Linked DNA regions of Homo sapiens: region 2 is linked to region 1. Evidence: fine-mapped expression QTL. A gene starts in region 1. The other region holds a variant in brackets. All regions are shown on one strand. Distances are between the middles of the regions. Region 1 holds the start of ZNF154 (zinc finger protein 154). Region 2 holds the start of ZNF552 (zinc finger protein 552).

Evidence for each region. PIP is the estimated chance that this variant, and not a neighbour inherited with it, causes the effect.
Region 2: its variant is fine-mapped to the expression of ZNF154 in whole blood (INTERVAL, PIP above 0.99).

The regions. Positions count from the first base shown.
Region 1 is chr19:57,707,157-57,712,527 of GRCh38, reverse strand. ZNF154 (zinc finger protein 154) reads left to right here and starts at 3,324. Exons shown (of 3, transcript NM_001085384.3): 1 at 3,324-3,589. The coding sequence starts at 3,557. RefSeq lists enhancers at 3,144-3,203, 3,224-3,353, 3,097-3,736.
Region 2 is chr19:57,810,465-57,815,835 of GRCh38, reverse strand. ZNF552 (zinc finger protein 552) reads left to right here and starts at 923. Exons shown (of 3, transcript NM_024762.3): 1 at 923-1,125; 2 at 2,416-2,542. The coding sequence starts at 1,093. RefSeq lists enhancers at 599-648, 3,656-4,307. The variant C/T (reference allele first, on the strand shown) is at 2,494.

The DNA of each region.
Region 1 (5,371 bases):
TAGGGTAATATTAAGAAGGAGTGATTTGTAATTAAAAATACCCAGCCAACAAAGGGATGACTGTGGAGAACAGATAACACTTTATAGCTGGAATAGGACAATTTTATGCTTATCTCTGGGGACATCTGGATACCTAGTTTGACTTTTAGCAAAGAAAGGCAGTGGGAGTTACAATGTGCTGCTTAAACTCTGAAATTTTTTCGTGTCTTTACAGCTGGCTTTTACCTGGCATAAATGGCTAGGTTGGCTTGGGTCATGCAGCCAGAGGGACATAAAAGTCCCTATTGGAAATTTCTGTTATTAATTCTTCTGAAATCAAGCTCCATCCCATATATATTAGTGGCACAGTCCAGAGATGAAGCATGTCCACTTGTGAATAAGAATCCTGAGGGTCATGGGTCCAGATCTTTCTGAGCCCTGATGCCTGTTCTGTCTTTCTCTAGCTGTACTGTATGCTTTATATTTAAATAAAAGCCTTATGAGAGAGTGCTTTCAGTCCCATGAGTCATTTCAAATATCTGAATTTTTCAAGTCTTTGCAGATGTAAATATAGATGTAGAAATAAATTTGTATAGAAATGTGTGCAAGTGGCCGGGCACGGTGGCTCACGCCTGTAATCCCAGCACTTTGGGAAGCCGAGGCGGGCGGATCACGAGGTCAGGAGATCGAGACCATCCTGGCTAACACGGTGAAACTCTGTCTCTACTAAAAATATACAAAAAATTAGCCGGGCGTGGTGGCAGGCGCCCGTAGTCCCAGCTACTCAGGAGCCTGAGGCAGGAGAATGGCGTGAACCTCGGAGGCTGAGCTTGCAGTGAGCCGAGATCGTGCCACTGCACTCCAGCCTGGGCGACAGAGCAAGACTCTGTCTCAAAAAAAAAAAAAAAAATGTGTGCGTGCATGTGTATGTATCTGCTTTCTCTCCAAGAGGACCTAATAATCAATGATTTACCAGTAGAAAAGAGCACAGCTAATGCTTACTAATATTTACAAGCATTGTTATCTATTGAAGAAAACCAGAGCTCCTTGAAAAAGAGGCTGATTCTGGGGCTGGGATAGCAAGGGTACAACATGAGCCTGAAAATATTTTTGGATTAGAAAGTAATGAAATTATCAATAATATTGACATAAAAAAGCAGAGAGCACAGCTTTAATGAGTTCCCACTGTCCAAACATCTGGGAGAATCTGAACATTAAAATAAATGTTGGGGCCGGACGCAGTGGCTCACGCCTGTAATTCCAGCACCTCGAGAGGCCGAGGTGGGTGGATCATGAGGTCAGGAGTTCAAGACTAGCCTGGCCAAGATGGTGAAACCCTGTCTCTACTAAAAATACAAAAAATTAGCTAGGCATGGTGGTGGGCAACTGTAGTCCCAGCTACTCGGGAGGCTGAGGCAGGAGAATGGCGTGAACCTGGGAGGCGGAGCTTGCAGTGAGCCGAGATCGCGCCACTGCACTCCAACCTGGGTGACAGAGCAAGATTCCATCTCAAAAAAAAAAAAAAAAAAAAAAGTACATTACCTTGCTGAGAATTAAAAAGAAAATTTTATATTCGAGTGCTATTTATTTTGCGGCTCCAAAACTTTATAACAAAGCAGCAGAGATTTCTCGGCCAGGCTCGGTGGCTCATGCCTGTAATCCCAGCACTTTGGGAAGCCGAGATGCGTGGATCACCTGAGGTCAGTGGTTCGAGACCAGCCTGGCCAACATGGTGAAACCCCGTCTCTTCTAAAAATACAAAAATTAGCTGGGTGTCATGGCGTGCGCCTGTAGTCCCAGCTACTTGGGAGGCTGAGGCAAGATAATCGCTTGAACCCAGGAGGTGGAGAGGTTGCAGTGAAACAAGACTGCGTCATTGCACTCCAGCCTGGGCAATAAGAGTGAAACTCCATCTCAAAAAAAAAGAAAAAAAAAAAAGAAGAGATTTCTCACCTATATACCCTGAGTGTCTCTGCAGCCAGCAAAGCAGATGAAGGCCTGCTGGGTTGGAGCCCTAGGCCCTCCAATGCTGAAATGCCCTGTGAAGTCTCCATCCATCCAGGCACTCTAGTAACCTGCTTCTTCTGCCTGGAATTTATTCTAAAAATACCCACATGGCTCATTTCTCACTTCCTTCAAGTGCATTTCACCGGCTTTCTGATTAAGAAGTCCCACCTCTCCCCTTTGTCTCTTATCAAAGTAGCATTTCTTTCATTGTTTTTTGAGATTGATGTTAGACTTCTAGAAGGAATATATCTCAGATATCAAGTAAGAATTATGAAATGGATAAAAGCGTTGCTCAGTGAATTGGACACAGTTATTGACTGGACACAGTAATTGGACACAATAATTGACTATGCAGGCAAAAGATGTTTTCTGTTGGAATCAGACAGAATTCTACCTTTGTACTACTGTTTCAAGGTGATCTAACATTTCTCTTCTATCTTCTAGAAGCACTATCATGCCACTATCTGAAGTAGTTTTTCACCTGTCCCTGACCAAAAGTGCACAGACTGACTTCAATGCTTCGGAGTGCATACATTTGAAATGTAATATGATAGAGGCTGGGTACGGTGGCTTACGCCTGTAATCCCAGCACTTTGAGAGGCCGAGGCGGGCAGATCACCTGGGGCCAGGAATTTGGGACCACCATAGTGAAACCCTGTCTCTACTGAAAATACAAAAAATTAGCCTGGCGTGGTGGCGCGCGCCTATAGTCCCAGCTACTTGGAAGGTTGAGGCACGAGAATCGATTAACCCGGGAGGCGGAGGTTGCAGTGATCCCAGATGGCGCCGCTGCACTCCAGCCTGGGGGACAGAGGGAAACTTTGTCTTAAAAAAAAAAAAAAAGGAATAAACTTATATGGTAATGTTTATTAGCTTCCCTACTAGTGGATATATTTCGTGTCTGAATGGCTCTATGGAATGATGTACATATTTGGATTGGCAGCCTTAGGGAGCGTCTGATAATAATTTTAGCCTCTGGGAGCCTGCTGAACTTTATGAAGTTTGAAATAATATTCCCCAAACACTTGGGTGATCAGTTGCAGATGGCACCTCTAATATGCTGTCTGATTACGACCCATTTAAGAAAGGGCGAAGTCCCTCCACTGCCCTAGGACTTGGATAAGCCATTTCTCATCGCCCAGCGCCCTGGAGCTTCGCTTTTACTCCAAGAGGTTGGTGCAAAGGGTCCCCGGCACCCACCTCGGGATCTATGAAAACTACATTACCTAGAATGCTCTGCGTTGAACGCCACGCTACTAAGCCAGTAAGAGCTCAGAAAACCGACTTTCCTTGAGAGTCACAAAAAGAAAGGACGGGACTTTTGGGGGGGCCTCTTCGTGGCGGCCATTTTAGCTTCTCTGAGGTGTGTTCACCGGATCAGAGATAGCAGAGCGCCGAGTTGGGGCCACGAAGGCGTGAGGGGAGTCGTCGTCCCTCCTGCACGAAAGCGTCTAAGCCTTGGCGACGCCGCCCTGGGGGACCCACGTCAGGCCTGGGATAGGGACCGCTGTCCCCGGGTCCCTACCAATGTCGCCCGTCGCTCCCGGCCCAGCTCTACCCGCAGAGTCTGATGGCAGCGGCCACTCTGAGGACGCCAACTCAGGTGAGTGCGGCGTCTTCCCGTCCTCACACACCTTCCCCCACCCACGTTCTAAAGCCATCAGTGAGGGGCGCCTGCTCGAGTCCCCGCTGCCCAGGGTCGGGGACACTGAGGCGTTCGTGGGTGGGGCCCTTTTTTTGACACTGCGTGTGACGAGGTGTGGGAGAGCGTGACAGGCGGAGGAACCGGCGCGTGCAAAGGTTGAGGCGCGACTGAGCCAGGAGAATTCGGAAAGCTGTTTTCTGCAGGGAACGAAGAATATGAGGCGGAGTTACTCCTAGGGTTGTACTGTCATTGTGAGGATGCTAGAAGCCACGGAGAGTTCTGAACAAAGGAGGGACGCCATTTATGTTAGTTTTTTTTTCTTTGAGACGGAGTTTCGCTCTTATCGCCCAGGCTGGAGTGCAATGACGCGATCTCGGGTCACTGCAACCTCCGACTCCCGGGTTCAAGCGATTCTCCTGCCTCAGCCTCCCCAGCAGCTGGGATTACAAGCCTGCAGCTGGGATTACAACGTCCGGCTAATTTTTTGTATTTTTAGTAGAGACGGGATTTCACCATTTTGGCCAGACTGGTCTGGAACTCCTGACAAGTGATCCTCCTGCCTCGGCCTCCCAAAGTGCTGGGATTACAGGCGTGAGCCACCGTGCCCGCCCTATGTTAGGGTTTAAAAACTTTTCCAAAGACTGTTCACAGGAAGAGCAGCGATGGGGCGATGAGGACATTGAGATAGTGGGAGGCTACATCTTTTTTTCATTGCCCTACAGTTGGCAAGAGGTGACAGCACTGAGACCAGAAAGTAAAACAGCCAGCCTGAGTTCAGGGCCAGGCAGGGCTACAGGGAGGCTTGAGCTCATCTAGCCTCACCAGGGATGCATTCCTCTTTCCCTGGTTCTCCCAGTTGTAGAAGGGCGTATGGAACTCACATAGGGAAGTGGAGAGTGTTCGGTCCCTCAGTAGCCTCTACCCCCATGTTCTTGGGATTGTGGTTTCCTAGTATTCTTAAGTGCTGTTACCCCAATCCTGGGTCTGGTGCCCTGGAGAAATTCCAAGCCCAGGGCTCTTAAGTCCATGCCAGAGGTTACAGGGGTTATACTGAGGTGTTCCCATTTTTGTCAGCCAGTGGAAACTTGTGAAAGGTTATCTCTGGCACTGGTATCAGGAGGCGCAAGTGCTTAGTAAAACTAAGCTGAGATTTTTGAGGAAACCATAGATCTGTTTCCTTTTAGCTGGGAACAAAGAGCAGGGGGAAGGAGTCAGGACTGCAGTGGCTGCCTGAGAAGTTGGGTACCTATTCTGGAGGTAATGAGAGATTTGGGTTACAAGAGGGAGGTGATCTTACCAAAGTCCTAACAGGGTCCATCCCGTTAGCGTGGAGAGCAGACTGTGGGGTTGAGGGAAGAGGAAAGAAGATCAGAGTGGAAGCTACAGCCAGTCCAGGGTAATGGACCAGAGTCATTGATTAGGAGATGTGTTGCATTCTGGATGCAAATTTTTAAAGGGAGCAACTAAATTTTCTGATGTAGACAGCGAGGGAGTGAAACAGGATTCAGCGATGACCCCATGGTTCTTCAACTGAGATGGAGAAGTTGGTATTAACAGTAATATTCACTGGAGACAACAGGAGCTTTATTTGGTCATGTAAGAGTTTGAGATGTTTCAGAGACATTAAGTAGGCATTAAGTAGGTGGCTGAACACCCAGGTCTGGAAATCTGGGGAGTGCTTCAGAATGGAGACATCCAAAATGTGGTGGTCATTGTGTGGACTAAGGTGAGTGAGCTGTG
Region 2 (5,371 bases), 100 kb before region 1:
AAGCTGGCCAGAGTCCCCTGTAGGGATGCTCCACAGGGCAGGCCTAAGCTGCCTAAGGGGCTGCCTCGACTATCTGTTAATCACCTGGCTTCCCAGTCAGGGAACCAAGAAATGTAGCAGGACAAGCCGCAGGGCTGTATTCAGCCTGGAGCTTTGGCAAGACTCACATCTCCAACTACCAAGCTCCCCAAGTGAGGAATTCCTGTCCCTTTTAAGGGCTTACAACTCTAAGGGGGTCCACATGAGAGGTTTGTGATCGATTGAGCAAGCAGGGGGTACACGACTGGGGGCTGCATGCAGTGGTAATCAGAACGGAACAGAACAGGACAGGGATTTTCACAATGCTTTTCCATACAATGTCTGGAATCCATAGATAACATAACCGGTTTGGTCAGGGGTCGATCTTTAACCAGGCCCAGGGTTGGCACCTGGCTGTCTGCCTGTGGATTTCATTTCTGCCTTTTAGTTTTTACTTGTTTCTTTGGAGGCAGAAATTGGGCATAAAACAATATGAGAGGTGGTCTCCTCCCTTAACAGCACAAACGCTTAATTAACATTTCTTTTTCTTTTGAGACAGGTTCTGTCGCCCAGGCTGGAGTGCAGTGGTGCAGTCATAGCTCAGTGCAGCCTGGACCACCTGGGCTCAAGCAGTCCTGACACCTCAGCCTCTCAAAATTTGGGATTACAGGCGCGCGCCACCGTGCGGGTCAGGAGGCTTCCCTGAGGGCCCCGGAGGTGGAGCTGGGCTTTTCCTTCCGAAGCGCCCCTGGGAATCTCTCTCTTTACGGCCTTGGAACCTGGGAAACTACATTACCCAGAAAGCTCTGCGTCAAATGACAGCACGGCAGAGCCAGTGAGAGTTCACATTGAAGGCGTTTCCGTGTGCGCAAGTAAGGTAGAGGCGGGACTCCCGGCGCCCTTTAGTAGCGACCATTTCCATTGGCGTTAGGGAGTCCTTGGAGCGCTGTGTTGGGACCGTGGTGGTGACTGGATCCAGGAGGTCGAGAGTCGTTCTTCTCTTTGCACAGACGTGACTCTGCAGCTCTTTAACGGCGCCCGCTGCTCTCAACCCAGCTTACCCCACGTGGTCCCATGGCGGCGGCCGCGCTAAGGTTCCCCGTTCAGGTAATTGTGGCGCCTTCCGTGCTCTCCGGTCACCTCCTAGTCACACAAGTCCTAAAGCAGCGAGGGAGCGGCACCTGTTTACGGCTCTGCAACCCGGACCCGGCGTCGGGACACTGAGGCGCTCTCGGGAGGGATCCCTGTTTCAGACACCCGTGGGATGCGGTGGGGAGAGCGACAGGTACAGGGAGGGGCGCGGGCAATGGCCTGGAGATGGACGGATCCGGGAGGATGGAACCTGGGGTCCACAGGCGCCTGTAGGGAACAACCTGTGAGGCGGAACTCCTCCTGGAAAAGCAAGGAGGCTGGGGGCTGTGAAATCATTGCGAGGACACTAGAAATAGGAGAATTTCCAAGAAAGAAGGGACTGGATCAAAGTCCAGGCTTTTAAAGTTTCCTAAAGGCCAAATAAATAACAGAGTAGAGAGGGGATGACGTTGGGGCCCTTTGAGATTGAATCCTTGTAGATCATATAGGTGGTAGAGATGACACTTTGTGCTGAGACACGCAGGTTAGACAATAGTCCAAGGTCACCTGGCTCCGTGGACACAAAAGCGTTCAGGGAGGCCTGAGCTTACCAGATCCTATCAGGGACACAGTCCTGTAAAGTCAGCCTCTTCCCTCAGGCCTTTATGGCTGTAGAAGCATTTAAGGAACGCATACAAGAAAGTGGAGGGTGGGGCCGGGTGCAGTGGCTCACTCCTGTAATCCCAGCACTTTGGGAGGCCTAGGCGGGTTGGTCCGGAGGTAGAGACCAGCCTGACCAACCATGGAGAAACCCTGTCTCTACTAAAAATACAAAATTAGCCAGGCGTGGTGGCGCATGCCTGTAATCCCAGCTACTTGGGAAACTGAGGCAGCAGACTCGCTTGAACCCGGGAGGCGGAGGTTGCGTGAGCCGAGATCGCGCCATTGCACTCCACCCTGGGTGACAGAGCGAGACTCCGTATCAAAAAAAAAAAAAAAAAAAAAAAAAAAAGAATGAGGTGCGTTCAGAGAGGGTATCTCTGCTGTGCTGAAGGTGCCACATTGGGCTTTCCATGACCTCGGCCATACTAGGGGAAGTGCCTGTCAGGAGGGGGTGGACTCTTATATCACAGCCACCGCACAGATACCTATTTGTTCAACTAACTATTGTTGTTGGTGGCTGTACCCCATGACCAGTGGGCCTAGTTTCTCCTATGTTTGAGGACCTTGAGAGGAGGATGTGCGAGAGTAGATGTGTGGGAGAGATGGATTGTGATACCTCAGCATAGGGGTGGTTTGTGGTTTCATCTGTCAACATCATAACAGGGCACAGTGACTTTTGAAGACGTGGCTGTGAAATTTACCCAGGAGGAATGGAATCTCCTTAGTGAGGCTCAGAGATGC[C/T]TGTACCGTGATGTGACGCTGGAGAACCTGGCACTTATGTCCTCCCTGGGTAAGTTGCCCACACTCACCCCTGTGACCTGAGCTAGTCTCTGTCTTTCCCCCTCTTTTTCTATTGGCAAGACTTTCTCATGTCAGGAGCATGGACACAGCTTCCTACTTCAGTTCTTGGTTGGTAGGACTGAGGTATGCATACTGCCCTCTCCATTCTTGGAGCAGCCCCAACACCTGCTATTGAGCTCCCAGGGAAGAATTCAGAGTCAGAAGTCTTACAGGCAACTTAATGCAGGCTACCTTGTTTGTCCTGTGGATGTTTGTGTGATTTCATCCAGATTTCAGGTTCGGGATCTAATTCATTCCTCTACCTGTTATTTCTTCATGCCTCCCTGTGCCAGGAATTGTCTTCATTGACATTGTCACTGCCTACATAGACTATAGACTGTTCTTGTAATACCGTCCTTAGAAATTCTCTTCATAGGTCTGGTGCAGTGGCTCATGCCTATAATTTCTGCACTCAGGGAGGCCAAGGTAGGTGGATTACTTGAGGCCAGGAGTTCGAGAACAGCCTGGCCGACATGGTGAAACCCCATCTCTACTGAAAATATAAAAATTAGCCAGGTGTGGTGGCACACGCTTTTAATCCTGGCTACTTGGGAGGCTAAGGTGGGAGGATAGCTTGAACCCAGGAGGCAGGGGTTGCAGTGAGCTGAGATTGTGCCACTGCGCTCCAGCCTGAGCAACAGAGCAAGACTCCGTCTCAAAAAACAGAAATTCTTTTTGTAATATTGTTTCCTGTCTGCTGTCATGTGCTGAGTTGTTCTAAGCCAGTGTTGGCTGTTTCCTTGTTCTGTCTTTCCCTTTGTTCTTACATCATGTATGTCTCATGTACTTGGTTATCTTGGTGGTGGGATCATCTTCTGTGGTCAGAAGATGCAAATGAATCTGGCCTCAGCATTATGGGTTCTGAGTCCCTGAAAAATAGCATCCTAGGACAGTGGTGCATGATGTCAAGAGTTTTATTCAAATCATGACAGAAACCTCTTCTATTTCAGTAGTATTTTTGGGGCCAGACAAGTAAGCACACATGATTTCTGTATCGTCTTTTCTCCTTCATTCTTGTTTTTGGTTTTGTTTGTTTGTTTTTTGAGAAAGGGTCTTGTTCTGTTGCCCAGGCTGGAGTGCAGTAGCTTGATCTCTGCTCACTGCAACCTCTGCCTCCTGGGCTGAAGCACTTCTCCTGCTTCAGCCTCCTGAGAAGCTGGGAATACAGGTGCATGCCATTATGCCCAGCTAATTTTTTTTTTTTTTTTTTTTTTTGAGACAGAGTCTCACTTTGTTGCCCAGGCTGGAGTGTAGTGGTGCGATCTTGGCTCACTGCAACCTCCACCTCCCAGGTTCAAGCAATTCTTCTGCCTCAGCCTCCCAAGTAGCTGGGACTACAGGCGTGCACCACCACGCCTGGCTATGTTTTGTATTTTTAGTAGAGATGGGGTTTCACCATATTGGCCAGGCTGGTCTCAAACTCCTGACTTCATGATCCGCCTGCCTTTGCCTCCCACAGTGCTGGGATTACAGGCATGATCCACTGCACCTGGCCTTCTCCATTGTTTTTTTTTTTTTTTTTTTTTTTGAGATGGAGTTTCGCTCTTGTTGTCCAGGCTGGAGCGCAATGGTGCGATCTGGCTCACCGCAACCTCTGTCTCCCAGGCCCAAGCAATTCTGCCCTCAGCCTCCTGAGTAGCTGGGATTACAGGCATGTGCCACCATGCCCGGCTAATGAAGGGTGGCCTGCCTCTCCACACCTGTGGGTGTTTCTCGTCAGGTGGAATGAGAGACTTGAGAAAAGAAAGAGACACAGATCCAAAATATAGAGAAAGAAAAGTGGGCTGGGTGCGGTGGCTCATGCTTGTAATCCCAGAACTTTGGGAGGCCGAGGCAGGCGGATCACGAGGTCAGGAGATTGAGACCACGGTGAAACCCTGTCTCTACTAAAAATACAAAAAAATTAGCCAGGCGTGGTGGCGGGCGCCTGTAGTCCCAGCTACTCGGAGAGGCTGAGGCAGGAGAATGGCGTGAACCCGGCAGGCGGAGCTTGCAGTGAGCCGCGATTGTGCCACCGCACTCCAGCCTGAGCAACAGAGCGAGACTCCGTCTCAATAAAGAATAAAAAATAAAAAAAAAAAAGAAAAGTGGGCCCAGGGGACTGGCGCTCAGCATACGGAGGAACCCTGCCTTCCCCCTGCCGCCACCAGTCTCCGAGTTCCTTCAGTATTTACTGATCATTATCTCTACCATGTGGCAGGTCAATAGGGTAATAGTGGGGAGAGGTTCAGCAGGAAAACATGTGAACAAATGTCTCTGCATCATAAACAAGGTAAAGAAAAAAGTGCTGTGCTTTTGATGTGCATATACATAAACATCTCAATGCCTTAAAGAGCAGTATTGCCTCCAGCATGTCTCACCTCCAGCCCTAAGGCGGTTTTCTCCTATCTCAGTATATGGAATATACAATTGGGTTTTAACACCCAGACATTCCATTGCCCAGGGATGAGCGGGAGACAGATGCCCTCCTCTTATCTCAACTGCAAAGAGGCCTTCCTCTTTTACTAATCCTCAGCACAGCCCCTTTACTGGCGTCGGGCTGTCAGGTCTTTCCCTTCCCATGAGGCCATATCTCAGGCTATCACATGGGGAGAAACCTTGGGCAATACCTGGCTTTCCTAGGCAGTGTTTTGTGTCCCTGGGTCCTTGAGAGTAGGGAGTAGTGATGACTTTTAACAAGCATGCTGCCTTGAAGCACTTGTTTAACAAAGCACGTCCTGCATAGCCCAAAATCCATTTAACCTTGAGTTGACACAGCACATGTTTCTGGAGCACAGGG